Linked DNA regions of Homo sapiens: all the other regions are linked to region 1. Evidence: fine-mapped expression QTL. A gene starts in region 1. Each other region holds a variant in brackets. All regions are shown on one strand. Distances are between the middles of the regions.

Evidence for each region. PIP is the estimated chance that this variant, and not a neighbour inherited with it, causes the effect.
Region 2: its variant is the best candidate, but not a certain one, in a credible set for the expression of CASP5 in whole blood (INTERVAL, PIP 0.55).
Region 3: its variant is the best candidate, but not a certain one, in a credible set for the expression of CASP5 in whole blood (INTERVAL, PIP 0.87).

Annotation. Positions count from the first base shown.
Region 1 is chr11:105,019,218-105,027,217 of GRCh38, reverse strand. It overlaps CASP5 (caspase 5), which reads left to right and starts at 4,050. Exons shown (of 10, transcript NM_004347.5): 1 at 4,050-4,088. The coding sequence starts at 4,082. CASP1 (caspase 1) reads left to right here. Exons shown (of 9, transcript NM_001257118.3): 8 at 267-376; 9 at 862-1,710. The coding sequence ends at 960. All of the region lies in intron 1 of LOC124902742 (a long non-coding RNA gene), which reads right to left.
Region 2 is chr11:105,086,580-105,097,751 of GRCh38, reverse strand. It overlaps the pseudogene CARD17P and the pseudogene CASP1P3. Among named protein-coding and RNA genes, the nearest start is that of CARD16, 47 kb to the right of the region's middle. The variant A/C (reference allele first, on the strand shown) is at 6,459.
Region 3 is chr11:104,933,534-104,944,705 of GRCh38, reverse strand. CASP4 (caspase 4) reads left to right here. Exons shown (of 9, transcript NM_001225.4): 9 at 1,733-1,840. Among named protein-coding and RNA genes, the nearest start is that of CASP4, 29 kb to the left of the region's middle. The variant T/AT (reference allele first, on the strand shown) is at 3,567.

The sequences.
Region 1 (8,000 bases):
ATCCCCTGTATAGCTAGCTGAGTCTATTAAATATCAGAATGCATAATTAACTTAAATCACAGTCAGTAATACCACTTTGGGAATGCACATTTAGATATTTCATTTCCAAATCCCAATCACTCCCCTCTACCCCATTCCGCCTTTTCCTTATTTGCTACTAAATTTATGATTTCAAACATCCCTCAGCTGGAGTATAAATACTAGGGTTTCTTCTCTTTCTTCAGGCAAGAGCCAGTCTTGAGATTTGAAATGTGCTTTATCCATAGATAATGTTTCTTGGAGACATCCCACAATGGGCTCTGTTTTTATTGGAAGACTCATTGAACATATGCAAGAATATGCCTGTTCCTGTGATGTGGAGGAAATTTTCCGCAAGGTAAGATGCTAGTGGATGCTATTTTCACTCTACTTCCCTGAATGCTTGGCTATTGCAATTGGAAGCATAGAAAGCAGATCCAGACAAGTTTATCTTCCAATAATGCTCTTCTTTCCAAAAGAGTTTTGGAGTTCTTTGGAGAGTGGACAAACCCAGGAGCCTAATCCAATCTATTAAGACCCACAGCCTTGAGAAAACAATCATTTAGTTTCACCCCGCTCCTGCCCTGCAGAGACAAATGAATGGACTCTAATTTACCTGTGTCTCTCATGGCTATTAGATCCAGCAGCAGATTTAAAATGCCCTGAGGAGGGTCATTCAATGCTTACATACATATATGGTTATACTTGTTGCAGATGGAAGTACTTTTTGTTTTTGTCACTTATTTTGCTATATTTGTTGTAGTTTTTTGGCATAACTCAAGAAATTCTTGAAAAAAAAAACTCAGCAAAAAAAAGGGCTACAGACTTTCCTTACTCTTTTAGGTTCGATTTTCATTTGAGCAGCCAGATGGTAGAGCGCAGATGCCCACCACTGAAAGAGTGACTTTGACAAGATGTTTCTACCTCTTCCCAGGACATTAAAATAAGGAAACTGTATGAATGTCTGTGGGCAGGTACATGTGTATGGTCGGGAGTGTGGGAAGGTTGAGGAAAGGGTACTGAAAGTCCATTTGAGTCAAGAACTCTAGGTTTACAGGCTGAGAATCCTTAATCCAAAAATTTGAATTTTGAAATGCTCTAAAATCCAACACTGTGTGAGCGCCCACATGATATTCAAAGGAAATGTTTATTGAAACATTTCAAATTATAGGTTTTTGGATTAGGGATGCTAAACCAGTAAGTATACAGCTGAATTCCAATATACAAAAATATCTGAAATTTGAAATACTTCTGGTAGCATGCATTTTGGATAAGGGATAATCAAGCCATATACAGAAAATACTGAAGTAATGCCTTTCTTCTGGTCAGTGCAGAGCACGTTGCTCTTCTCCCAAAGTTTTTCATTTAGACCCCTTTTGAGATTCATCTGATATTGGCCTAGAAGTGGCCGTAAGACTACAAACCCTCACTTTTGGATGTTTCTCTCCTTCACCTCAGCAGGGTATATTTAAACATAGCATGTGGTCTTTCCTTTTAAAATTGTGTATGTTCCCATTGGTGGTATAACTTTATAACTTGCATGTCTTTAACAAAATTCTTTCCTATGTTTTTTTTTTTAATTATTTCTTTTTCTCATAGGAAGTGAAGAGATCCTTCTGTAAAGGTTTTTGGAATTATGTCTGCTGAATAATAAACTTTTTTGAAATAATAAATCTGGTAGAAAAATGAAAACTTGTCCTCATTTTTCTCCCACACTGAAGAAACAGGGACTGGAACTTAGAGTGACTAAGGAATTTAGAGTGTTTGACTTAATCTGTCAGACCCAAACTGGCTATTGGCACCTTTCTTTCCCAGAACTTAAAGTAAAATAAAATATAAAAATTTAAAAAAGAAAATCAGACTTACAAACATAGCAATGTTATTAATTACTTTCTTGAACAAAAATTTATTTTGTGCCATTTTTAAAAAAAGAAAAATCGTTTGCTGGGCTTTCTGCTTTGGGGATGTGATATAAGTTACAGCAGGTATCTGACTTCAAATAATTTAGAGCTCAGCAGGAGAGACGGGGGAAGACAGCTAGTTATGACAGCGACAGTGTAGTGTGATAAAGAACTTTTCCCAAATCCCACAGTTTGCTACTGACAAATCCATGAACTTGCATGTTTCTACCCTTTGCAAAAGTATTTAAGACAAAGTAAGTTTTGAATCAACCCTCAGTAGTTCACAGACTTCTTGAAAAGATAAGACAGCCATCCAAAATGAAGCGCTTGGCAGATGGTGCCTGACACCCTGAAGAAACTCTAGGATGCATGGTGTGCACAGTGAAGTCCTGGCATGGTGCAGAGAAAACGAGTTTGGGGTGAAATCATGCACTCAGGGATGTTAAGATTTAGGGAGGATTCGAAGAACTACCCCTTACTTGCAAATATGTTTTTTTCTAATATTTAACAGATTAAATGAGAGTTAATTTCTGACTTCTTAAACACCTTCATAGTTGAACACATTACAGTCTCTCTCTCTCTCTCTTTTTTTTTTTTTTTACCTTTTATTAACTGTTTCTCTGGGCATATCTCTTCTGTGTTATCATGCATACTCTACTACAACCTGAGACTACATCTGTGATCAGTCTTTGCTCAGAGAATATCAAAAAGGAGAAGTGAATTGCCACCCTAAGTAAAAATTAACTGTTAAAGCAGTTTTAGTCAGTTGAAGAACAGCATTCCAGGAAGTAGATAAGAGGATTCCTTCAGAACTGTCTCCAATCAAAGCGTAAGATGACAGGGAGATGGGGAGGAGAAGACTCCATCATGATTCCTCAGCACAGTTTAAACAAGAAATACATTTATTGAATAAACAATCCTTTCCTTGTTTCTTTTTGCTGTTGTTGTTGACTTTGTTGAGTATCAGTTGGTTATAGGTGTGTGGCTTTATTTTGGGGTTCTCTATTCTGTTCCATTGGGCTTTGTGTCTGTTTTTTTTGTACGAATACCTTGCTGTTGTGGTTACTGTAGACTTCTAGCATAGCTTGAAGTCCAGTAATGTGATGCATCCATCTTTTTGAAAAGCAGTTTGGAGATTTACCAAATAACTAAAAAAAGAACTATCATTTGTCCAAGCATCCCATTACTGACTGAATCCTCAAAGGAAAATGTACTGTTCTATCAAAAAGACATGTGCTTTCAAATGTTTGTCGCAGCACTATTCACTGTAGCCAAAATAATAGAATCAACCCAGGTGTCCATCAATGGTGGATTGGATTTAAAAAAATGTGGTACACTGCTACTATGGAATGTTACACAGCCATAAAAATGAAACCCTGCCCTTTGCAGCAACATGGATGCAACTGGAGGCCATTATTCTAAGCAAATTAATGCAGAAACAGAAAACCAAATATCACATAATCTCACTTGTAAGTTCTAGCTAAATATTGTGTACACATGGACATAAAGACGGGAATAACAGACACAGGGAAATACCAGAGGGAGGAATGAAGGAAGAAGGCAAGAGCCGAAAAACTATGTACTGGGTGCTATTCTCACTACCTAGGTAATAGGTTAAATTGTACTACAAACCTCTGCATCACCTAATATACTCTTGTAACAAACCTGCATATGTACCCCTGAAACTCAAATAAAAATTGAAATGAAAAATAAAGAAACCCAAGATATACAAAATATTTGGTTAATTCTTATGGGAAGATGCAAGGAAACTAGTTAGATTTTACTCATTCAGGACATGTGTTTTTAGACGAGCAGAGGTAGAAAAACTGACAGATCAGAAGAGAGGGATGAATAAAAGAAGATGTGGGGCTATGGAGAGAGAAAAGGAAAAAGAAAACCAGGCTGAGGTTTCAACCCACAAAACAATGTTTTGTCATTTGCATTTTTTTTCCCCAGGGAAGAATCTAGAGTTCAAGAATAGAAAGCCAATTTGCTTACTACAGGGCACTTCCCAATGATGAAACTATAGGTTCCCAGAAGCAACTTCCCATAATCTGTAATCACTTGTCCCCACTCCCTGCAATAAGGAAGTACCTAGTGTATTTTATCTCTGAGTCTGAGGCACTTTCCAGTGCTGTACAAAGAGACAGAGGCTGTTAGCTATGGCTGGTGAGTCTGGGCCCTTTTCTGACTAGCAGCTGGGTACTCAGGTCTTAGAAAAATCTTGATTTATTGCTATGTGACAGGCAGAAATACCAAAAGGGAAATCAACCAATAGTGTGCATGCTGAATCTTTCTCTTATTGGTGGTATGTAGTTTGAATCCTGAGACTGTGTAGAGACACTGAAGGAGAGTATGTTCTCTAGATGTTTTCAAGCCAGAAAAAGGTTAATTCCTTTCTTTCAGCTTCTGGTAATCAAAGAGAGAGTAAGGAAAGACAGAGTAAGTTATTTGTGTGAGAAAACTCCGGAAATTTCTAAATGCACTCTGAAATCTTCTCTGCTTCCTCTTGATTCCAAATTAATCCTCCAGACTATGAACCTTCTCCCCACAATCAGATCTGAGAGCCTCTGTGTTCTCAACGTGTTGTCATCTCTTATCTTGAATTATCTTATTGGTCTGTTTAAAGTGATTGCATTTTTCCACCTTTCTATGTAGTCCTGGTACTAACTCTTATAATGTAATATATCTTAGGTTGCTATCATAGACTTTTAACTGTCTTCCCACTCCCAAAAACTTAACCCTTCAGTCCATACTGCACACTACTTTCAGGCCAACTGTCTTATACACAGAAGCTAAAAAAGCCTATGAGTTGGAGTCCTGGGCTACTTAAGCAGCTCGTATTCCAGCAGGTCATATTGCGTCTTTGGTTTCATTCTCCTCACTGGAAAAAGGAAGAAACTGGAATAGATCAGTGCTTTCTAAACCTTATAACATATATGAATAATCTGCAGTCTTTTTTTTTCTTTAATTTATTTATTTATTATTATTATACTTTAAGTTTTAGGGTACATGTGCACAATGTGCAGGTTAGTTACATATGTATACATGTGACATGCTGGTGGGCTGCACCCACTAACTCGTCATCTAGCATTAGGTATACCTCCCAATGCTATCCCTCCCCCCTCCCCCCACCCCACAACAGGCTCCAGAGTGTGATGTTCCCCTTCCTGTGTCCATGTGTTCTCATTGTTCAGTTCCCACCTATGAGTGAGAATATGCGGTGTTTGGTTTTTTGTTCTTGTGATAGTTTACTGAGAATGATGATTTCCAATTTCATCCATGTCCCTACAAAGGACATGAACTCATCATTTTTTATGGCTGCATAATATTCCATGGTGTATATGTGCCACATTTTCTTAATCCAGTCTATCATTGTTGGACATTTGGGTTGGTTCCAAGTCTTTGCTATTGTGAATAATGCCACAATAAACATACGTGTGCATGTGTCTTTATAGCAGCATGATTTATAGTCCTTTGGGTATATACCCAGTAAAGGGATGGCTGGGTCAAATGGTATTTCTAGTTCTAGATCCCTGTGGAATCGCCACACTGACTTCCACAATGGTTGAACTAGTTTACAGTCCCACCAACAGTGTAAAAGTGTTCCTATTTTTCCACATCCTCTCCAGCACCTGTTGTTTCCTGACTTTTTAATGATTGCCATTCTAACTCGTGTGAGATGGTATCTCATTGTGGTTTTGATTTGCATTTCTCTGATGGCCAGTGATGGTGAGCACTTTTTCATGTGTTTTTTGGCTGCATAAATGTCTTCTTTTGAGAAGTGTCTGTTCATGTCCTTCGCCCACTTTTTGATGGGGTTGTTTGTTTTTTTCTTGTAAATTTGTTTGAGTTCATTGTAGATTCTGGATATTAGCCCTTTGTCAGACGAGTAGGTTGCGAAAATTTTCTCCCATTTTGTAGGTTGCCTGTTCACTCTGACGGTAGTTTCTTTTGCTGTGTAGAAGCTCTTTAGTTTAATTAGATCCCATTTGTCAATTTTGGCTTCTGTTGCCATTGCTTTTGGTGTTTTAGACATGAAGTCCTTGCCCATGCCTATGTCCTGAATGGTAATGTCTAGGTTTTCTTCTAGGGTTTTTATGGTTTTAGGTCTAACTTTTAAGTCTTTAATCCATCTTGAATTAATTTTTGTATAAGGTGTAAGGAAGGGATCCAGTTTCAGCTTTCTACATATGGCTAGCCAGTTTTCCCAGCACCATTTATTAAATAGGGAATCCTTTCCGCATTGCTTGTTTGTCTCAGGTTTGTCAAAGATCAGATAGTTGTAGATATGCGGCATTATTTCTGAGGGCTCTGTTCTGTTCCATTGATCTATATCTCTGTGTTGGTACCAGTACCATGCTGTTTTGGTTACTGTAGCTTTGTAGTATAGTTTGAAGTCAGGTAGTGTGATGCCTCCAGCTTTGTTCTTTTGGCTCAGGATTGACGTGGCAATGCGGGCTCTTTTTTGGTTCCATATGAACTGTAAAGTAGTTTTTTCCAATTCTGTGAAGAAAGTCATTGGTAGCTTGATGGCGATGGCATTGAATCTGTAAATTATCTTGGGCAGTATGGCCATTTTTCACGATATTGATTCTTCCTACCCATGAGCATGGAATGTTCTTCCATTTGTTTGTACCCTCTTTTATTTCCTTGAGCAGTGGTTTGTAGTTCTCCTTGAAGAGGTCCTTCACATCCCTTGTAAGTTGGATTCCTAGGTATTTTATTCTCTTTGAAGCAATTGTGAATGGGAGTTCACTCATGATTTGGCTCTCTGTTTGTCTGTTGTTGGTGTATAAGAATGCTTGTGATTTTTGTACATTGATTTTGTATCCTGAGACTTTGCTGAAGTTGCTTATCAGCTTAAGGAGATTTTGGGCTGAGACAATGGGGTTTTCTAGATATACAATCATGTCGTCTGCAAACAGGGACAATTTGACTTCCACTTTTCCTAATTGAATACCCTTTATTTTCTTCTCCTGCCTGATCGCCCTGGCCAGAACTTCCAACACTATGTTGAATAGGAGTGGTGAGAGAGGGCATCCCTGTCTTGTGCCAGTTTTCAAAGGGAATGCTTCCAGTTTTTGCCCATTCAGTATGATATTGGCTGTGGGTTTGTCATAGATAGCTCTTATTATTTTGAAATACATCCCATCAATACCTAATTTATTGAGAGTTTTTAGCATGAAGCGTTGTTGAATTTTGTCAAAGAACTTTTCTGCATCTATTGAGATAATCACGTGGTTTTTGTCTTTGGTTCTGTTTATATGCTGGATTATATTTATTGATTTGCGTATATTGAACCAGCCTTGCATCCCAGGGATGAAGCCCCCTTGATCATGGTGGATAAGCTTTTTGATGTGCTGCTAGATTCGGTTTGCCAGTATTTTATTGAGGATTTTTGCATCAATGTTCATCAAGGATATTGGTCTAAAATTCTCTTTTTTGGTTGTGTCTCTGCCCGGCTTTGGTATCAGGATGATGCTGGCCTCATAAAATGAGTTAGGGAGGATTCCCTCTTTTTCTATTGATTGGAATAGTTTCAGAAGGAATGGTACCAGTTCCTCCTTGTACCTCTGGTAGAATTCGGCTGTGAATCCATCTGGTCCTGGACTCTTTTTAGTTGGTAAGCTTTTGATTATTGCCACAATTTCAGATCCTGTTATTGGTCCATTCAGAGATTCAACTTCTTCCTGGTTTAGTCTTGGGAGAGTGTATGTGTCCAGAAACTTATCCATTTCTTCTAGATTTTCTAGTTTATTTGCGTAGAGGTGTTTGTAGTATTCTCTGATGGTAGTTTGTATTTCTGTGGGATCGGTGGTGATATCCCCATTATCATTTTTTATTGCGTCTATTTGATTCTTCTCTCTTTTTTTCTTTATTAGTCTTGCTAGCGGTCTATGAATTTTGTTGATCCTTTCAAAAAACCAGCTCCTGGATTCATTAATTTTTTGAAGGGTTTTTTGTGTCTCTATTTCCTTCAGTTCTGCTCTGATTTTAGTTATTTCTTGCCTTCTGCTAGCTTTTGAATGTGTTTGCTCTTGCTTTTCTAGTTCCTTTAATTGTGATGTTAGGGTGTCA
Region 2 (11,172 bases), 69 kb before region 1:
ACTCCATTAGCAGTGAAATTATTCAGCGGTGAAAGATCAGGATTGTCTTCCTAAGAATGCATTTCCACTTTTGTGGCTTCATCCTTAGGTGAGGCTGTAAGAAACACAAAGCGGAACAAAGAGGGATGCCAATGTTCATGATATTCTTTGACTCTTGCGACTCCTCAGGCTGTGGCAGTGTGGGACAGCCCTGCTATGCCTACATCCTCAGGCTCAGGAGGAAGCATCAAGCTTTGCTCCCTAGACGAAGCTAAAAGGATATGGAAAGAAAAGTTGACAGAGGTGCCATGCTCAGAACACAAGGTTAGAGTGGGGTGAAAGATACATTTGAGGCAATTCTGAAATGCAGTGGCTTTTTCTTAGAGCTGTTCTCAACGGAGAATCTTACTTCTGCTTCCTTTACCTAAAAAAAAAAAAAAAATCCTGCATCCTAGGATCCCAGGTTTATAGAAACAGTTCCTAATTGCACCCAATTCCTGGATAAATAACATCAACAATGGCAGCTATTGAATGTTCACTAAGAGTGGGCACTGTTCTAAGCATTTTGTACATGATAATACATAATTTTTAACCTTAAAAATAATCCATTTTAGAGATCTAGAAGCTGAGACATGGGGTTGTTAAATATTCTGCCCAAAGAAAAACAATAAAAAATTAGAGCAATCAGTTTTAGAATTCAGGCATTCTGGCTTCAAAGCTTGTGCATTTTTCAAAATCCTACGTATCAAGAAAAATGAAGTCAGTAGCTAACCTGCCATCTGGGCCTTTGCAGTTTCTATGCCTACTCTCGAAGTAGCACTGAATTCCGTTCCCCATTTTCAATGTGTAGTCCAAGGGATTTGGTACCTTGATAGGACTAAGAAAGGGAAAATGGTCATAAATTAACCAGGTGAATATTAAATTACAGAGAATAAGACTATTCATCCAAACTGCATTTCCTACAGATTTATCCAATAATGGGCAAGTCAAGCTGCACACATCATGCTTGCTCTCATTATCTTTAACAAAGAGTTTGACAGTCTTTCTAAAAGAGTGGGAGCTGAGGTTGATGTCATAGGCATGATGATGCTGCTACAAAATCTGGGGTACAAGGTGGATGAGAAAAGAAATCTCACTGCTTCGGTAAGGTCTATTATACCATAGAGACAACGGTCATGCCCTTTGTGTAACTAAATAATATTAGAAAGCTTGGTTGTAGGACCAAGAATTGTAATCTGTTGATAATCTAAAATATAAACTTGCCATGGAAGGATGCTGGATGCTACATATTCCCCTGAAACATCAGAGTCATTCAGCATGAGTCTGGTTTAACTTAAATGTGAAGGTTTTTTTTTTTTTTTTCTCAGTAATGCCACGTTCTCTTTACCAGATAACTCTGAATGACTTCCTACAACACCTTCCTTCACCTTTCTCGAAATTAAGACTAAAAGGTTTTTTGGCCCTCCATTGTTTGTCATGAAATTACTTAAGAAATCCTTAAGTACTTATTTATTGGCTTTCCAAGGTGCCATGAGGGTTAATCACATAGTCCAAAATCAGCAGTATGGTCTCTTTCAGGAAATGACTACAGAGTTGGAGGTATTTTCTCTGCACCAAGAGCACAAGGCCTCTGGTCTCATGGTATTCGGGAAGGCATTTGTGGGAAGAAATACTCTGAGCAAGTCCCAGATGTATTACAACTCAATGAAATCTTTAAAACGTTGAATAGCAAGAACTGCCCAAGTTTGAAGGACAAACCCAAGGTGATAATCATCCAGGCCTGCCATGTTGGTGAGGCTAATGTCTTTGAGAACACCAGACATTCAAATACTGTCCTCATCTGTATTCATCATGAATTTTCAGTTTATGTCTGTTTTTTAGTGTCAAAGAACATACACTGTCAGCACTCAAGATGTGGCTTCTGTGAATTGTATGACTGGTTGGTAGATATTTGTTTTATATTCAAGTCTGAGACTTTGATGTTTGGTGGTTTTTAAAATTAGTTTGAGAGTTAGAAGAAATAAGAATTGTTGAAAGAATGTTACTTGAATGTATGTGTGTATGTGCATGTGAATTAATGATAGAGCAAATATATTGATAAATATGATTGAACAGACGCTAAGAGGAGAACGTTGTCCTCTCAGCCATTGGTAGTAGTAACAAACCAAATTTTGTCTTTCCAGAGAACCATGGTGTGGTGTTGGTAAAAGATTCAGTACCGGCCTCTGAAAATATATCTTTACCAACTCCGGGAGATTTTGAGGATGATGCTATTAATCAAGTACACATAGAGAAGGATTTTATTGCTTTCTGCTCTTCCACATTAGGTAACAGGTTTCTTGTACACAGAACATCTTTGTGGGTGTTATCAATAGAAAAACTCACAGCCACCCACTAGAGGGTAGATACCTGTGCAGAACTTTAGATAAGATTTTTGAACACAAACTAAAGCTTTGTTCCAAGTTATACACAGGATTCCCTTTATCCTCAAAGAGCAAGTAAGCACTTCTTTTCACTGATTTAGTAATTAATGAACTCCTCTCTGTTGCAAAATATTTTAGAACTGTGAGAGATAACAGAGAATGAAATGGAAGACGATCTCTGCTGTAGAACATTAGAGTCTGACTCTACATAGAAAAGGTCCTCCATGTTGAGATCATTCAATGGACCAATTGGGCCTAACATCAAGTATTCATAGGAGAAGAGTAGAAGCAGGGTTCAGAAAAGTAGAACAGCAAGCGAGGAACTTTGGGCCCCTAAATTAAAGTGGGTTTTACCTAGAAGCAAGTATATAAAGCAGAATATATACGCATTATTCTAAATGTATGCTTTGCAGTAAGAATCTTGCTATTATTGACAGATCTAGTCATTTAGTACTTTGTAAACTAGCTCCACTAGTTCCTCCCTGTACTTTCCTTGAATTACTCACTAATATATATGAATATAAATATCATTTTTTAAGGATTAAAGAAATTAATATATGTGAAATATTGCACATGACAGAAAGAAGTACACATTAAAGAACTGGTATTATTTAAAATGTTTTTATTTTATAACTTCATTCAGTTACTTTTCTTAGCAAGGTTTAAATAAAAATGACTTGAATGCTTTTATCCACCTTGTATGGCAGTTTCCTGAGAGGACTCGCATTGTCTTGGTCACCTCTGGCTCAAAGGCCCTGCCTCTGCTCAAGTAGTTAAATTTTCTGAAATAATTTGTACAATGAGATATCTTCTTTCAGAAGAAGTTTGGTTCTATATTGTCTTGAACATGCCCTGATGCAGAACTCAATATTTTTTCAATGATCAAAACCAATGACAAGATAAACACACAAAAAAATACATTTCCAGCCTGAGTACATAGAGTAGACTATAACATTAGACAGAACTGTTCTTTAATATCCTTTGATCCCAGCCTTCCACATGACATTCATGGCCCTCTATATAGCATTTTGTAGGCCCCCGGCTTCTCATCACCAATCCTGCTGATTTCCGTGTTTTTCTTTTCTTTCATTTTCCTTACTCCTCCTTTCCATATGACTGTCAGAAACTCCATTTAGTTATTTATAACTCCCATATTAAGCCTAGCTCCACATTCTGCTGTGCAAATCCCAACTATTTCATAGTGCTCTCCTGAGGAAAAGTAACTATCTACTTCCTTAATTTCACAAAACATTTGCAGAAACACCTGTTTCCACCTTATCTCTTACCTACTTCCTTCAACTAAGATAGCTGTGGTTCTAAATAGAATTTTATTATTAATATACACTTTATGACCATTATAATTGGCTGAAATGTGTCATTAAAGAAGTCTGTGATTATACACAGAGCTATTGCTACTGCTTTTCTCTTATGCCTCCCTTTGTATAATTTTCACATGTCTTCATTACTTCCGTGTCTACCATGTAATAAATATTGTTTTCTTTAATATTTTTCTCTTCCATAAGAACTTCTTATTGTCCATTATGATGTCAACATCCTTTTATTGACTTTTCCTAGATTTCTACTTTTGTTCTGTTTTATGATTTTTATGGTTAACTCTTCGTGTGGAAATATCTTACAGTCAATGTTATTAAATTTTCATTAAAATTTTATGTGAAGTACATACATTGAGAATTTATTAACATAATTACCCTGTATAGACTGAGTATTACATACCCTTTGTTAGCTCAGACACTAGTGTAGACTCAGATATCTCCTGTGTATGAAATTGTTACCATTCCCTGTATAGCTGAGTCTATTGCATATCAGCATGGACAATTAACTTAAATCACAGTCAGTAACAGCACTTTGGGGATGCACATTTAGATATTTCTTTTTCAAATCCCAATTCCTTCCCTTTACCACATTCTGCCTTTTCCTAACTCTCTACTAAATTTACGACTGTAACTCTGGGACTATGCAACGTTAGTACCTGCACCATATACAGCACCATTTAGAGTATCAGTAAAAATATACTCACTGAACTTCAAATGTATTCACTAAAAAATACAGTGAAGTGTATGGAAAATAGATGAACTCCAAAATATGCCTCAGCTGGAGCAGAAATACTAGAGTTTCTTCTCTTTCTTCGGGCAAGAGTCAATCTTGAGATTTAAAGCTTTATCAATAGATAATGTTTGCTGGAGACATCCTGCAAAGGGCTCTTTTTGTTATGAGTCATTGAACAACTGCAAGAATATTCCTGTTCCTGTGATGTGGAGGAAATTTTCCACAAGATAGGGCTCTAGTGGATGCTATTTTCACTCTGCTTCCCCGAATGCTTGGCTATTGCAATTGGAAGCATAGAAAGCAGATCCAGACATGTTTATCTTCCAATAACACCCTTCCTTCCAAAAAAGTTTTGAAGTTCTTTGGAGAGTGAACAAGCCTGGGAGCCAGATCCAATCTGTTAAGACCAACAGCCTCAATAAAATAATCATTTAGTTTCACCCACCTCCTGCCCTGCAGAGACACATGAATGGACTCTAATTTCCCTGTGTCCCTCATGGACATTAGATCCAACCACAGATTTAAAACGCCCTGAGGAGAGTGATTCAATGCTTAGATAAGCACATGGCTGTACTTGTTGTAGATACAAGTACTTTTTGTTTTCATCACTTACTTTGCTAGATTTGTTTTAGCCTTTTTGGCATGAGTTAATAATCTTTTCAGAAAAACAGGTCTCCAGACTTTCTTTTCTCTTTCAGGTTCAACTTTCATTTGAGCAGCCAGATGATAAAGCACAGATGCCCAGCACTGAAAGAGTTACTTCGACAAGACGTTTCTATCTCTTCCCAGTACATTAAAATAAGGAAGCTGTATGAATGTCTGAGGGCCGGTATGTGTGTGTGGTCAGGAGTGTGGGAAGGTTGAGTAAAGTGTACTGAAAGTCCATTTTAGTCAAGGACTCGAAGTCTACCGATTGAGAATTTTTAATCCAAAAATTTAAATTTTGAAATGCTCTAAAATCCAAAACTGTGTGAGCGCCCACATGATATTCAAAGGAAATGCTTATTGAAGCATTTCAAATTTTAGGTTTTTGGAATAAGGATGCTAAACCAGTAAGTATAATGTAGATATTCCAATATACAAAAATATCTGAATTTCAAAATACTTCAGGTAGCATGAATTTTGGATAAGGGATAATCAAGCCGTGGCATAATATACAGAAAATACTGAAGTAATGCCTTTCTTCTGGTCTCTGCAGAGCATGCTGCTCTTCTTCCAAAGTTTTTCTTTTTTTCTTTTAGACCCTTTCTGAGGGTCAGCTGATATTGACCTAGAAGTGGCCATAAGTCTATGAAGGCTGACTCTTAGATGTTTCTCCCCTTCACCTCAGCAGGGTAACATTTTAAAATAGCATGTGGCCTTTCCTTTTAAGGTTGCATATGTTCCCATTGGTGGTATAACTTTATAACTTACATTTCTTTTAGCAAAATTCTCTTTTATGCTTGTTTTTTTTCCCCATAGGAAACCTAGAGTTTCTTCATTCTGTAATGGTTTTTGGAATTATATCTGTTTAATAATAGACTTCTGAACATTTTAATAAATCTGATATAAAAGTAAAAACATGTCCTCAGTTTTCTTCCACATTGGAGCAACAGTGGTTGGAAATCAGAGGGAGTACTGAATTTAGAATGTTAGACTTAATCCGTAAGACCTGAACTGGCTATTGGCACCATTTTTTCATTCAAAATACCATTTGCTGCTGGATTGAAGACACAAATTACAAATTAGGGATGCAGATACAAATTACCACAGGTACCCGACTTCAAAAAATTTAGAGCTCTGCAGGAGAGATGGAAAGAAGACGAATAGTTATGACAGTGACACTGCAGTGGGATAAGGGACTTTTCCCAAATCCCAGTTTACTACCAAAAATCCATCAACAGAACCTGCATATTTCTACCCTTTGTTAAGGTATTTAAGAGAGAGAAAGTAAATTTTGAATTAACTGTAGACCTTCAGTAGTTCACAGACTTCTTGAAAAGGTAAGAC[A/C]TACATCAAAAATGAAGCGCTTGGCAGATGGTGCATGACACCCTGAAGAAACTCTAGGATGCATGGTGTGCACAGTGAAGTCCCTGCATGGCGCAAAGAAAATGAGTTAGGGCTGAAATCACTCACTCAGGGATGTTAAGATTTAGGGAGGATTGGAAGAACTACCCTTTCACCTGCAAATATGAACCTTTTCTAATCTTTATCCTATTAATTCAAAGTGAATATCTGACCTTTTAAAAACCTTCGTAGTTGAGCACATTACAATCCCTTTTTTTGTGTGGCCTTTTATTAACTGTTTGTCTGGGCACGTCTTTTCTGTACTATTGTGCATATTCTACTACAACCTAAGACTACATCTGTGATCAGTCTTTGCGCAGAGAATATCAAAAAGCAGAAGTAAATTGTCACCCTCAGTAAAAATTAATTGTTAAGGCAATCTTAAGCAGTTGAAGGAAAGCATTCCAGGGAGTAAAGGGATTCCTCCAGAGCGCTCTCCAATCAAAGGGTAAGATGACAGGGAGATGTGGAGGGGAAGACACTGTCATGATTCCTCAGCACAGTTTAAACGGTTGCAGGTGCCAATAGTTTTTGTTTTTGTCATTTATGTTGCTGTATTTGTTGCAGTTTTTCTGGTGTAAGATTCTACATCACAAAAGGTCCACAGACTTTCTCTTCTTAGGTCCAATTTTCATTTGAGCTTCCAGAGGTAGGGCACAGATGCTCATCACTGAGTGACATTGACAAGATGTTTCTATCTCTTCCTAGGACATTAAAAGAAGTAGGTTGTATGAATGTCCGTGGGCAAATGTCTGTATGTTTGTGTTGGGGATTTGAAGAAGTTGGAGAGGAGTACTGAAGCTCCATTCTGGTCAAGGTGTCTAGTTCTAAATGTGTTACTCTTCATCCAAAATTTCAAAATCTGAAATCCTCCAGTATCTACATTCTTTCCTATTACCTCCCACTTTTTTTTAATCAAAAAGAGACACTGAAAAGTCTGCAATAATTGCTAGTTTAAATGCCTTCGTTCCATTAAATTGTAAGAGTGTCTCCTATTGATATTTTTTTTTTATATAATTCCAACTTTTATTTTCCATCAAGGGGTACATGTGCAGGTTTGTGACCTAGGTATATTGCATGATGCTGTGGTTTTGGTGACAATTGCTCCTCTCATCCAAGTTGTTAGCATAGTACATAATAGTTAGTTTCTCAACCCTTGACCCTCTACCTCCGTCCTCCCTCTTATTGACCCCAGTGTCCATTGAGCCCATTTGTATTCTATGTGTACCCAATGTGATTATTCTTTTGTTTCTGTACCCATTAACATTCCCCAAATTCCCCCACACCACACTATGCTTCCCAGCCTCTGGAAATAATTCTTCAACTCTCTGTTTCATTGAGTTCAAATATTTGAAATTTTAGCTTCCACAAATAAGTTTGATTTGCATTTCACTAATAATAATGTTGTGCATTTTTTCATATACCTGTTTGGCGTTTGTATGTACTCTTTTGAGAAATGTCTATTTAGATCTTCTGCCCATTTTTAAATCAGATTATTAAAATTTTCTCCTTCAGAATTGTTTGAGCTCCTTATATATTCTGGTTTTTAATCCCTTGCCAGATGGATTGTTTGCAATTTTTTGCCCATTCTGTGAGTTTTTTCTTTACTTTGTTGATTGTTTCCTTTGCTGTGCAGAAGGTTTTTAACTTGATGTAATCCCATTTGTCCATTTTTGCTTTGGTTACTCATGCTTCTGGAGTGTTACTCAAAAAATCTTTCTTAGTCCAAAGGACTGGAGAGTTTCTCTATTTTTTGTAAGAGTTCCATAGTTTGAGGTCTTTGATTTAAGTCTTTGATTCATTTTGGTATGATTTTTGTATATGGCAGGAGTCAGGGGTCTAGGTTCATTCTTTTGCATGTGGATATCCAGTTTATTTTCAGTACCATTTATTAAAGAGACAGTCCTCTCACCATTGTCAAAAATGAGTTCACTGTAGATGTGTGGATTTATCTCTGGGTTTTGTAATCTGTTCCATTGATTTATTTGTCTGTTTTTATACCAGTACTATGACATTTTGATAATTACAGTTCTGCAGTGTAACTTAAAGTCAGGTAATGTGATTCTTACAGTTTTGTTATTTTTCTTCAGAGTACCTTTGGCTGTTTTAGATCTTTTGTGGTTCTATATACATTTTAGGATTTCTTTTTATTTTATTATTTCTGTGAAGAATGCCAATGGTATCTTTATAAGGACTGCATTGAATCTATAGATTGCTTTAGGCAGTAGAGACATGTTAACAATATTGACTCTTCCAATCCATAAACAATTTTTAAAAATTTTTTGCATCCTCTTTAATATCTTTCATTAATGTTTTATAGTTTTCATGGCAAGGGTCTTCTACTTCTTTGGTTAATGTAATTCCTAGGTATTTAATTTTAATTCTAGCTATTGTATATGGAATAATTTTCTTGATCTCTTTTTCAGCTTGCTTACCATTGGCATATAGAAATACTATTAAATTTTGCACATTAATTTTTGTATCTTGCAATGTTTCTGAATTAGTTTATCAGGTCTAAGAGTTTTTTGGTGGAGTCTTTAGGATTTTTCAGATATAAGGTCACATAGTCTGCAAACAAGGATAATTTGACTTCTTCCTTTCCAATCTCGATGCCCTTTATTTCTTTATCTTTTCTAATTGCTCTGCCTAGGACTTGCAACACTATGTTGGATAACAGTGTTGAAAGTGGACATCCTGATCTTAGAGGAGAGGCGTTCAGTTTTCCCCACTCAGTATAATACTAGCTGTGGATCTGTAGTATATGACTTTTATTATGTTGAAGTATGTTCTTTCAGTACCTGTTGTTTTTTTTTGAGGATTTTCATGATGAAGGTATTTTGAATTTTATTAAATGCTTTTTCAACATCAATTTAAATGATTTTATGTTTTTTGTCCTTTCTTCTGTTGATACAATGTATCACATTAATTGATTTACATATGTTGAACAATTCTTGCATCCCTTGGATAAATCTTGCTTGGTCATGATGAATGATCTTTTGAATGTGTTGTTGAATTTGGCTTGCTAGTGTTTTGTTATGGATATTTGTATCAATATTCATCAATCATACTGGCCGAAATTTTCTTTCTTTTTTTTTTTTTTTGATGTGCCTTTGTCTGGTTTTGGTATCAGAGTAATGCTGTCCTTGTAATGAGTTTGGAAGTATTTCTTCCTCCTCTGTTAGTCTAAGGTTTTTTTTCCTTCAAATTATTTTAAGTTGTGGTGTACTTGTGTAGGATGTGCAGGTTTGTTACATAGGTAAATGTTTGTCTTGGTGGTTTGCTGTACAGATTAACCAATCATCTAGGTATTAACCCAGAATCCATCAGCTATTCTTCCTGATGCCCTCCCTTCCCCTGACCCCCTCATAGGCCCTAGCATGTGTTGTTCTCTTCGCTATGTAAATGTGTTCTCATTGTTCAGTTCCCACTTTAAGTGAGAACATGAGGTGTTTGCTTTTCTGTTCCTGCATTAGTTTGTTGAGGATAATGGCTTCCACCTCCATCCATGTTCTTGGGAAGGACATGATCTGATTTCTTTTTATGGCTGCATAGTATTCCAGCATGATGTTCCATGATGTAGCTGCACAGTATTCCATGATGTATACATACCACCCTTTCTTATTCCTATCTATCACTGATGGGCATTTAGGTTGATTCCACGTCTTTGCTATTGTGAACAGTGCTGCAGTGAAAATACGCTTCCATTTATCTTTGTAATAGAATGATTTATATTCTTTTGGGTATGAAAATCTCCAATCTACTTCCCACAGTGCTGAACTAATTCAGGTTTCCACCAATATTGTACAGGCATTGCTTTCTCTTCACAGTGTTGCCAGCATCTGTTATTTTTTGACTTTTATTTTCACACAAAAAATAAAAGGAGAAAACACTTCTCAACTTATTCTGTGAGACCAATATTAACTTGATATCAGAACTTCACAATAGCAAAGACTGGAATCAACCCAAATGCCCATCAGCGATAGACTGGATAAAGAAAATGTGGTACATATATGCCATCTAATACTATGCAACCATAAAGAAGGATAAGATCATGTCCTTTGCAGAGACATGAATTACCTGGTAGCAATTATCCTCAGAAAACTGGCATAGAAACAGAAAACCAAACACTGCATGTCCTCACTTATAAGTGGGAGCTGAACAATGAGAACACATGAACACATGGAGGAGAACAACACACACTGGGGCCTGACAGGGGGATTTGAAGGGAGGGAGAGCATTAGGAAAAATATCTAATGCATGCTTGGCTTAATAACTAGGTGATAGATTGGTCTGTGTAGCAAACCACCATGGTACACGTTTACCTAAGTCACAAACCTGCACATGCTGCACATTAATCCCAGAAATTAAAAAATTATATCTAATAAATTCACAAATAAAATTATCAAAAATTCTAAAAAACTGAATCCAGCAACTATAAAAACTATTATACATGATGACCAATGATATACTATGGGTGTTTTATTAATAGCCATTCTGATTGGTGTGACATGGTGCTTTATGGTGATTTTGGTTCGTTTTTCTCTGATGATTAGTGATGTTGAAAATTTTTTCATACATTTTTTGCTACTTGTTTGTCTTGTTTTGAGAAATGTTTGTTCATGTCTTTCACCTACTTTTTAATAGGGTTACTTATTTT
Region 3 (11,172 bases), 84 kb after region 1:
AGAGTGATATTGGTGGTTAAGTTCAATGACAAATGACAGCTGAGTACTTGGATGGTCAAATTGGTGTTTTTGTTGATATAGTCTGGTGATTATCTGCTACTTCTTTCCGACTTACATGTATTTGGATTCCTCCAACTCTACAATTAATCAGGCAATCAATCAATCAATCAAGGAGGTAAGGAAAACCGCAGCAGAATGTGATGATGAAAAACCAAGGATAGTAATTATTAAAATAGAAACATGCTCATGCTTCCATTACTATTTATATTCATTTATCTCTCATAGTCTTTCTCTTTTATTCCCCTTTCTTACACACACACACACACACACACACACAGAGAGAGAGAGAGAGAGAGAGAGACACTAAGTAGCCAAACATTGCATCAAACCCTAAACAAAACAGAGTAAACAAAGGAGCTAACTCTGGAGAAAGCAGCATTTTGATCCTCTGAGTGAGGATGTCACAGCAAATACCACATTACTGACATCCAGATACCATTACCAGATGGTACAGAATACATCCTACACTGTAGAGTTTGTGTTGATCCAGGCTCTGGTTCTCAGACTGTTCTCACAATGCAGATCACCAATCACTCAGGGTTGGCTTTTGAATCTTCAATCACAGTCCAGAAGTTCCTTCAAGCTCCCATGTAACTTTTGTTATTATTTTGACCAAAATATTATAGAATGGGTACATTGAGTCTGGACTAAATGATGACTTTCTTCACTCATAATAGCTTTATTTAACACTAGACTATAAGACTATTATCAATCTCCCTCTAAGATACATACTTAAAATTATATTTTATAGTGAAATGTATAAAGTTGTTCTCAATACTTCCAACATTTACCACATAATTTTTACTCTTGGTTTCTGACACTTCAGTCACAATATTGCATCATTTCAGCATAACAGCTTTCAGTGCCTAATCCATCCAGTGGGGCTGCATTTGGACATTGAATTGTTTGTTGACTAATATTTGCCAACACTAACTGTGCACCAGGTTTTGTTCTAGATGCTTGGAATATGCCAATTAACAACGTAAATAGATTTCTTACACTCTGAAAGCTTATATTCTAGTGAGTAGAAACAGACTCTGAAGACATAAAGTGGTAAATATATCACAGGCCGGAGAGCAAAAAAAGATAAAAGGAAAAATAAAGGAAGACAAAGGAAAACACAGAATGATGGATGCTGTACTCCTATAGATATTTCACTCAAAAGCTTTTCTTGAAATAATGAAATCAGAACAAAGAATGGACAGAGTTGGGGAGTGAATAATGTGGTTCTTATGCAGGAAAAGTGTTCCAGCACAGAATACAGCCAGTGCAAATGCCCTGGGATAGCAATGCACTAAACATGTTTAAAGAACTGCAATGAGACAGTGTGACCAAAAGAGAACGTGAGTGGAGAAAATGGCAGAGACAAATTAGGAGAAGCAGTGAGAAGCCAGATCGCGTGGTTCTATGTTATCACATGGTAAACCTTTAAAAATTATTATCTGAGCGAGACAGGAAGCCTTTCTAGTGCTTTAGAAAAAAGAAGTAATATGCTTTAAATTAGGTTTTACAAAGATCACATTTTGGTGAATAGACTAAGATGTCACAGATGGAAGTCAAGGGAAGTGGCAAGAGCACATGGAAGAGGATGCAAGAAGAATCATGATGAGGGATGGGATGAAGGCAGCAAGGGGTAACCATCTTGACCTTCTGTTTTTTCTCTCCCCTGCAGGAAGCCACAAGCAGCCCAGCCCTCCTTAATCAACTTCAAGGAGCACCTTCATTAGTACAGCTTGCATATTTAACATTTTGTATTTCAATAAAAGTGAAGACAAACGAACTGTGTCTTTTTCTAATAGAGAATATAATCTCAATGAAAATGGTGGGTGAGTGGAAATGAAGTGGAGGAAGCTAACTGGATTTTCGAGCTTTATGGCTCATGAAATATCTATACTTGGCTGATGAAGAAAACTGACTGATTTATCCCCAACAATAGGATGAAAGATGTTGCCGAAAACTATAGTGAGATACTGCCTCATACCCATTTGAATGACTCCCATCAAAAAAAGCCCCAAAAAACAGAAAATAACAAGGGTTTGAAGGGATGTAGAATAATTGGAATCCTGTGCTCTATTGGTGAGAATTTCAAATGGTACAGCCACCTTGGAAAACAGTATGGTATTGCCTCATAAAATTAGAAGTAGACTTACCATATGCTCCAGAAACTCCACCTATGGGTACATAACTAAAGTAATTGAAAGCAGGGTCTCAAAGATATATTTATACACCCACATTTATAGCAGCATTGTTCACAATATCTAAAATGTGGAACTATCTGATAACTGATAAATGGATAAGCAAAATGTGGTGTATACACATAATGGAATTTTATTCAGCCTTTAACGAGAAGGAAGTTCTGACATTTGTTACAATATGGATGAACCTTGACATTATGCTATGTGAAATAAGGCAGCAATAGAAAAACACATACTGCATGATTTCACTTACATGAGGTACCTAGGGTATAAAATTCATAGAGACAGAATGTAGAATGGTGATGGCCAGGGACTGTGGGGAGGAGGAAATGGGGAGTTATTAGTTAATGATATAGAATTTGAGCTTTGCCAGACAAAGAGGAATTCTGAAGGTAAATGGGGGTGACACTTATATGACTTTATGAATGGATTTAGTATCAAACACTACATTTAAAAATGTTAAGATGGTCAATTTTGTGGTATGTATTTTTACCACAATAAGACATTGGGGACAAAAGGGATAACTGGAGGTGAGAAAAGATGGAGTAAATTGCACCCGGGAAACTCTGATCAACTTACACAGAAGAGAATTAAGCTACTGTGCAAAACTGATGAAAGAAGAAATGAGAGTAAAGTATATTACTTATTATTTCAAAATGAATCAAGGAAATAATCGGAAATCTCACCACCATCAAATATTATGTAGAACAAGAGAGAGATCTGGCAGTGTGAATGAGCTATATTTCATTTTTCATATAAGACAGTTAACCACTTTTCTACTGTGATAAATCTTAGCAAAACTAGGGGTCCAAGCATATACGTCTTTTTCTCCCCCATATGGTTCATCAAACTGAGTTAGGCAACTTTACTTTCACACACCTGTGATGCCTCAGGAGCCACCTTGACATACACATGTCAAGAAAATTATTAATTCTATATCTGATGATGTCTTGATTCCACTTTCACCATACAAAGCAGAGACCAAAGGTGTCACTCACAGATACTCATCTATTCTGCCTTAGTTGTTAAATAACTGTCTAGTCATTCATGTGAAGACCCTCTTGTTTCCCAAGTGATGTGCATGGTTTCAGGTGACTTACATCTTTAACAGGACTTATTATCAATCAGTCAAGCATGTGGAAAAAAAATTCAGTAAAGAGTATCCAACACATTGGGGTAAAGTTCTCCAGAGAAGGTGAGGCTTTTTCAATGTCCATCTTTCTTTAGGTTCACTATTTGGAAGTTACCTTAACACAGAAGACTCTCAAGCAGTGTATTCTCCCTTCCTAGGTAACAGTGCTTCTAAAAAAA[T/AT]AGCATTGTTTGAATCCCATCTTCCTTGGTATTAATTACATAGGATAAACCCAGGGTGGGAGGGCTATGGGTAATTCTCATAGATTATTAAATCTATGAGAGTATATATAATAGAGTAACCTATGAGTGTATATATAATATATATACACTGAATTAGTAATCATTGAATTCCTCTATAGTACAAAATATTTTCCTTAAACTGTGAGCAATAATAGAGAATTCAGTGGAAAATGATCTATGCTGGAGTACATTAGAATTTGACTCCACATAGAAAAGGTCTGCAATGTTGGGATCATTCAGCAGTCCAATTTGCCCAGACATCAAGTATTTATAGAATAGTGGAAGCAGAGGGCAGAGAAGCAGAAAAACAAGCAAGGCACATTTGGGTCCTACCTTAAAGTGGGTTTTACCTAGAAGTATGAAGTACATAAAACAGAATATATCTGAATAATTGTAAATGTAAGCTTTGGTGTAAGATCCTTGCTTTTATAGACTGACACAGCCACTTAGTACTTGGTAAATTAATTTCATTTATTTAGCTTCTCTGGGCTTTCTTTGAGTTCCTTACTAATAGATGTGAATATAAATATCATTGTTCTAAGGATGTAATGAGTTAATATAGGCAAAATATTTAGCATAGTCCAGAATAAAGAAGGTGTTAAACAACTGCTATCATTAAAGATATTTCTACTTTGTAACTTAACTCAGTTAACTTCCTTATCAAGGTTTAAATAAAAGTCATTTGAATCTTTTCATTCACCATGTTTGGCAGTTTCCTGGGACTTGCATTCTCTTGGTCACCTATGGCCTGAAGGTCTTGGCTCTGCTCATATAGTTAAATTACATATTGTCTATAATGAGATGCCCTCCCTCAGGAGACAGACTGGTTCCACATTGTGCTGACCATATCCTAAGGTAGAATTAACTTTTTCCATGATCAAAAACGATGATACCACACAAAAGACCCAAACATTTCTAGCTTCAGTGTAATTAGTAGACTTTAATATTAGATGGAATTGTTCTTTAAAATCATTTGATCCCAGCCTTCTGCATGACTTTTGCCTCTGTCTTTGCAGCCCTTTGTCGGTCCACTGTTTTCTCAACATCAGTCTTGCTGGTTTCTGTCTCTTTCTTTTCTTTCACTACTTTTTACTCCTCCTTTCCAGATGACTATCAGAAACTCCAATTTAGTTATCTATGACTCCAATATTACACCTAGCTCCACATTCCACTGTGTAAATTCCAATCATATCATGGTGCTCTCCTGAAGAAAAATAACCATCTACTTCCTTAATTTCACAAAATATTTGCAGAGACACCTGTCTCCATCTCATCTCTTACCTACTTTATTTAACTGGAACAAGACTTAGTTAAAAACCTTCCTTTAATTGTGATAGACATGGTTCTATATAGAATTTTAATTTATTATTCAATATATTTTATTACCATTACCATTGACTAAAAGATTGGATTAAAGAAAGTGTCCATGGTTATATACAGAGCTATTTCCATTATTTTTCCCTCACACCTTCCTTTGTATAATATTTATATGTCTTCATTACTTCTGTGTCAACTATGTAATAAATTAATTCTTCTTCAATATTTCTGTTGTCCATAAGAACTTTTTTCCTCCAATATTATGTATTTCTTCCGTAATCAACCCTTTCTAGATTTTCACTTTTGTTCTGTTGTACCATTTTTGTATTTAGTTAAAATTTTGTGTAAATATTTTTGGTGAATATTGTTTAATTCTAATTAAAATTATTTTTGAAGTTGATAAATTGAGAAGCTATTAATAGAATTATACTGTAGAGATTGAGTATTACATATCCTATATTATTCCATACACTTGTGATGCTTCAGATATCTTTTGTGTATGAATTATTATCCTCCCCTTTATAGATGAGGCAATTGCATTTCAGAGCTCATGATTAACTTAAATCAGTTAGTAAATATCACTCTTGAAATGCACATATAGGTATGTCTTTTCCATGGACCAGTCACTTTCCTCTGCCCCATTTTACCTTTCTCTTACTCTCTACTAAATTGATGACTTCTTGAACTCAGGGAATACGCTGCTCTAATATCTGCACCACATACAGCACACTTGTCAAATATCAGTAACAATATACTCACTGAATTTTGAATATATTCACTAGAAATATAATCCAGTGTATAGAAAACAAAGTGAATTCCATTGCATGCCTTAGCTGACTTAGAAAAAAAACAATATTTCTTCTTTTTCTTCAGGCAAGAGCCAGTCTTGGGATTTGTGAGGTGGTTTATTCACAGATGTTTCTTGCCAACATTTCACAAGTGGCTTTTTACTCTGACACTTATCAAACATTGGCAAGAATATCCCTTATCCAGTGAAAAGGAGGATATTTTCTGAAAGGTGGGCTAAAGATGCTTCTACCACTTGACTACCCTGGATGCTAGACTATTGCAGTTGGAAACATAGAAAGCAGATCTGGCCTGCCCTGAAGAGATGGAATGAATGGACTCGAATTTACCTGTATCCTTCATGGCTATCAGATCCAGAGCAGATTTTAAAAACCCCGGGGAGGGTCATTCAATGCTTAGATATGCATGTTGCTATGCTTGTTGCAGGTGAAAGTACTTTTTTATTTTTGTTATTCATTTCGCTGTATTTGTCGCAGTTTTTCTGGCTAAAGATTCTACATCAGAGCAAAGGTCTACAGACTTTCTCTTTTTAGGTCTGATTTTCATTTGAGCTTCCAGATTATAGGGCACAGATGCTCATCACTGAGTGACATTGACAAGATGTTTTTATCTCTTCCTAGGACATTAAAAGAAGTAGGCTGTATGAATGCCTGTGGGCCGATGTGTATGTGTGTTGCGGGGTTGAAGAGGTTGGAGAGGAGTACTGAAACTCCATTCTGGTCAAGGTATCTAGCCCTAAATGTGGTTATTCCTCATCCAAAAATTCAAAATCCAAAATTCTCCCAAACCTAAATTTTTTCCCATTACCTCCCACATTTTTAAATTGAAAAGTTACATTAAGAGGTACATGTGCACTTTTGTGACCTAAGAATATTGCATGATGCTGGGGTTTTGGTGACAATTGGTCCTGTCATCCAAGTCGTGAGCATAGTACACAATAGGTAGTTTTTCAACCCTTGTCTTTCTATCTCCTTCCTTCCTCTAGTAGAACCCAGTGTCCATTGTTTCCCATCTTTCTATCCACGTGTACCTAGCGTTTAGCTCCCACTTATAAATGAGAATACACAGTATTTGGTTTTCTGTTTCTGAGTAAATTTGCTTAGGATAATGTCCTCCAGAAGCATTCATGCCACTCCAAAGGATATGATTTCGTTCTTTTTATAACTGTGTAGTATTCCATGTCGTATATGCACCACATTTTCTTATCCAATCCACCCTTAATGACACCTAGATTGATTCACTGTCTTTGCTATTATGAATAGTGCTGTGATGAATATATGAGTGCATGTGTCTTTTTGAAAGAATGAGTTATTTTCTTTTGGATATATGTTCCATAAGAGGATTCCTAGATTAAATGATAGTCCAGTTTGTTTTTTCTCTCTTTCTTTAATTTTCAATTTTAGGTATATATTTATGTGTATACACATAACATATTTATGGGTTACATGAGATATGTTGATACAGGCATGCAATACATAATAATTACATTGTGAAAAGTGAGGCATCCATACCTCAAGTATTTCTCTTTTGTATTACAAATAATTCAGTTATGCTCTTTTAGTTATTTTTAAATGTACAATTAAATTATTATTGACTTTAGTCACCCTGTTTTGCTAGAAAATACTAGGTCTTAATCCTTCTTTTTAACAGTTTTTGGGGGAAATAACCCTCCCCAATTTCCCTGCACCCCACAGTATGCTTCCTAGCCTCTGGTAACCATTCTTCTTCTCTATATTTCACTGAGTTCAATTATTTTAATTTTCAGTTCCTACAAATAAGTGAGAACACGTGATCTTAGTCCTTCGGTGCCTCACATATTTTACTTAACCTAATGACTTCTAGTTCTATCCATGTTGTTGCCAATGACTGAATCTCATTTTTTTTATGGCTGAATAGTATTCCACTATGAATAAGTACCACATTTTCTTTATTCATTTATCTGTTCATGAACACTTAGTTGGCTTCCAAATCTTGGCTATTGTGAATAGTGCTGCAATATTCATAGGAATGCAGATATCTCTTTGATATACTGATTTCCTTTCTTTTGAGTGTATGCCCAGCAGTGGAATTGCTAGATCACATGGCAGCTTATTTTTAGTTTTCTAAAGAACCTCTAAACTGTTCTTTATAGTGGTTGTACTAACTTACATTATCCCCAACAGTGTATGAGGGTTCCCTTTTTCCACATCCTCGCTAGCACTTGTATTCCCTATCAGATAAAAGCCATTTTAGCTAGCATGAGATAATACCTTATTGTAGTTTTGATTTGCATTTCTCTAATGTTGTGCGCCTTTTCATGTACCTGTTTGCCATTTGTATGTCTTCTTTTAAGAAATGGCTATTCAGAACTTTTGCCCATTTTTAAATCAGATTATTAAAATTTTCTCCTATAGAGTTGTTTTAGCTCCTTATATATTCTGGTTTTTAATCCCTTGTCAGATGAATAGTTTGCAAATTTTTTGCCCATTCTGTGGGTTTTGTCTTTACATTGTTGATTGTTTCCTTTGCTGTGCAGAAGGTATTTAACTTGATATAATTCCATTTGTCCATTTTTGCTTTGGTTGTCTATGCTTCCGTAGTGTTACTCAAAAAATCTTTGCCCAGTCCAAAGGACTGGGGAGTTTCTCCATTTTTTGTTATAGTTCCATAGTTTGAGGTGTTTAAGTCTCTGATTCATTTTGATTTGATTTTTGTATATGGCAAGAGTTGGGGGTCTAGGTTCATTCTTTTTCACATGGATATCTAGTTTCATTTTTCAGCACCATTTATTGAGGAGACTGTCCTCTCACCAACGTATGAATATTCTTGGCACCATTGTCAAAAATGAGTTCACTGTGGATGTATGAATTTATCTCTGAGTTTTGTAATCTGTTCCATTTATTTACATGTCGGTTTTTATGCCAGTACTACGACATTTTGATAACTACAGTGTAATTTAAAGTCAGGTATTGTGATTCCTACAGTTTTGTTATTTTTGCTCAAGATAGCTTTGGCTATTTCAGGTCTTTTGTGGTTTCATACACATTTTAGAATTTTTTTTTGATTCTGTGAAGAATGTCAATGGTATCTTGATAAGGACTGCATTGAATCTGGAGATTGCTTTGGGTAGTACGAACATATTAAAAATATTGATTCTTCCAACCCACGAACAAGGAATTTTTACATTTTTTTCACATCCTCTTTAATTTATTGCATTGATGTTTTATAGTTTTCATTGTGAGGGTCTTCTACTTCTTTGGTTAACGTAATTCCTAGGTATTTAATTTTATTTGTAGCTATTGTAAATGAAATTTTTAAATTTCTTTTTCATATTGTTTACCATTGGCAGATAGAAATGCTACCAATTTTTGTAGATTGATTTTTGTATCCTGCAATCTTACTGAATTTGTCTATCAGCTATTATAGTTTTTTGGTGGAGTCTTCAGGTTTTTCCAAATATAAGAACACATAATATGCAAACAAGGATAATTTGAGTTTTTCCTCTCCCATCTGGATGCCCTTTATTTCTTTATCTTGTCTAATTGCTCTTCCTAGAACTTCCAACGCTATGTTGAATAACAGTGTTGAAAGTGGGCATCCTTGCCATGTTTCTGATCTTAGAGGAGAGGTTTTCAGTTTTTCCAGACTCAGTATAATACTATGTGTGGGTCTGTTGTATATGGTTTTTATTATGCTGAAGTGTTTCTTCTTTACCTGTTTTTTTTGAGAATTTTCATGATGACGGCATTTTTAATCTTGTCAATTGATTTTTCAGAATCAGTTGAAATGATTATATGTTTTTCGTTCTTTCTTCTGTTGATACAGTGTGTTACATTACATTGATTTGCATATGTTGAAGCATTTTTGCATCCCTAGGATAAATCTGACTTGGTCATGATGAACAATTTTTTAATGTGTTGTTGAATTTTGTTTGCTAGTATTTGCATCAATATTCATCAATCATATTGGCCAATAGTTTTCTTTCTTTTTTTTAATGTATCTTGGTTTGGTTTTGGTATCAGAGTAATGCTGTACTTGTAGAGTGAGTTTGGAAGTATTTTTGGCTTCCCTGGCAGTTCTGTTTTAAGTTCTTTTTTTTTTTTTTTCAAGCTATTTTAAGTTCTGGGGTACATGTGCAGGATGTTCACATTTGTTACAAAGGAAATGGTGGTTTCCTGCTGAGATCAACCCATCACATAGGTATTAAGCCCAGCATCCACTAGCTATTCTTCCTGATGCTATCCCTTCCCCTGAGCCCCTCACAAGCCCCAATGTGTCTTGTTTCCCTCCCTGTTGTCCATGTGTTCTTATTGTTCAGATCCCACTTACAAGTGAGAACATACCGTTTTTGGTTGGTTGTTCCTGCATTAGTTTGCTGAGGATAATGACTTCCAGCTCCACCCACGTCCATGTCCCTGCAAAGAACATGATCTCATTCCTGTTTAGGGCTGAAAGTATTCCATGGTGTATATGTACCACCTTTTCTTTATCCATTCTATTATTGATGGGCATTTGGGTTGATTCCATGTCTTTGCTAGTGTGAATAGTGCTGCAATGAACATATGCTTGCATGTATCTTTATAATAGAATGATTTATATTTCTTTGGATATAAAAATCTCCAAACTACTTTCCACATTAGCTGAATTAATTTATGTTCCCACCAACAATGTATAGGCATTCCTTATTTATTTATTTATTTATTTATTTATTTATTTATTTATTTATTTTTGAGATGGAGTCTTACTCTCTCACACAGGCTGGAATGCAGTGGCGCAATCTCGGCTCACTGCAACCTCCATCTCCCAGGTTCAAGTGATTATCCTGCCTCAGCCTCCTGGGTAGCTGGGTCTACAGGCATGTGTCACCACACCCGGCTAAATTTTGTATTTTTAGTAGAGATGGGGTTTCACCATGTTGGCCAGGCTGGTCTTGCACTCCTGACCTCAAGTGATCCACCTGCCTCAGCCTCTCAAAGTGCTGGGATTACAGGCATGAGCCATCGTGCTGGACAGCATTCCTTTTTCTTCACAGCCTTGCCACCATTCATTATGTTTTGACTTTTATTTTCACAAAAATTATAAGAGGAGAAAACACTTCTCAATTTACTTTATGAGACTAATATTATCTTGGTATCAGAACCAGATGAAAATACCACATGTAAAGAATAGTATGGATGATTACTGGGTATATATACCCAAAGGAATATAAATCATTCTATTATAAAGATACATTACATGCATGCTACCAAATTTTGTATACTGGAGGATAGTTTGACTTCTTCTTTTCCTATTTGGATGCCTTTTATTTTCTTCTGTTGCCTGATCACTCTGGCTAGGACTTCCAGTTCTATGTGGAATAGCTGTAGTGAGAGAAGGCATCCTTGTCTTGTGCTGGTTTTCAGAAGGAATGCTTCCACCTTTTCCCCATTCACTATGATTGGCT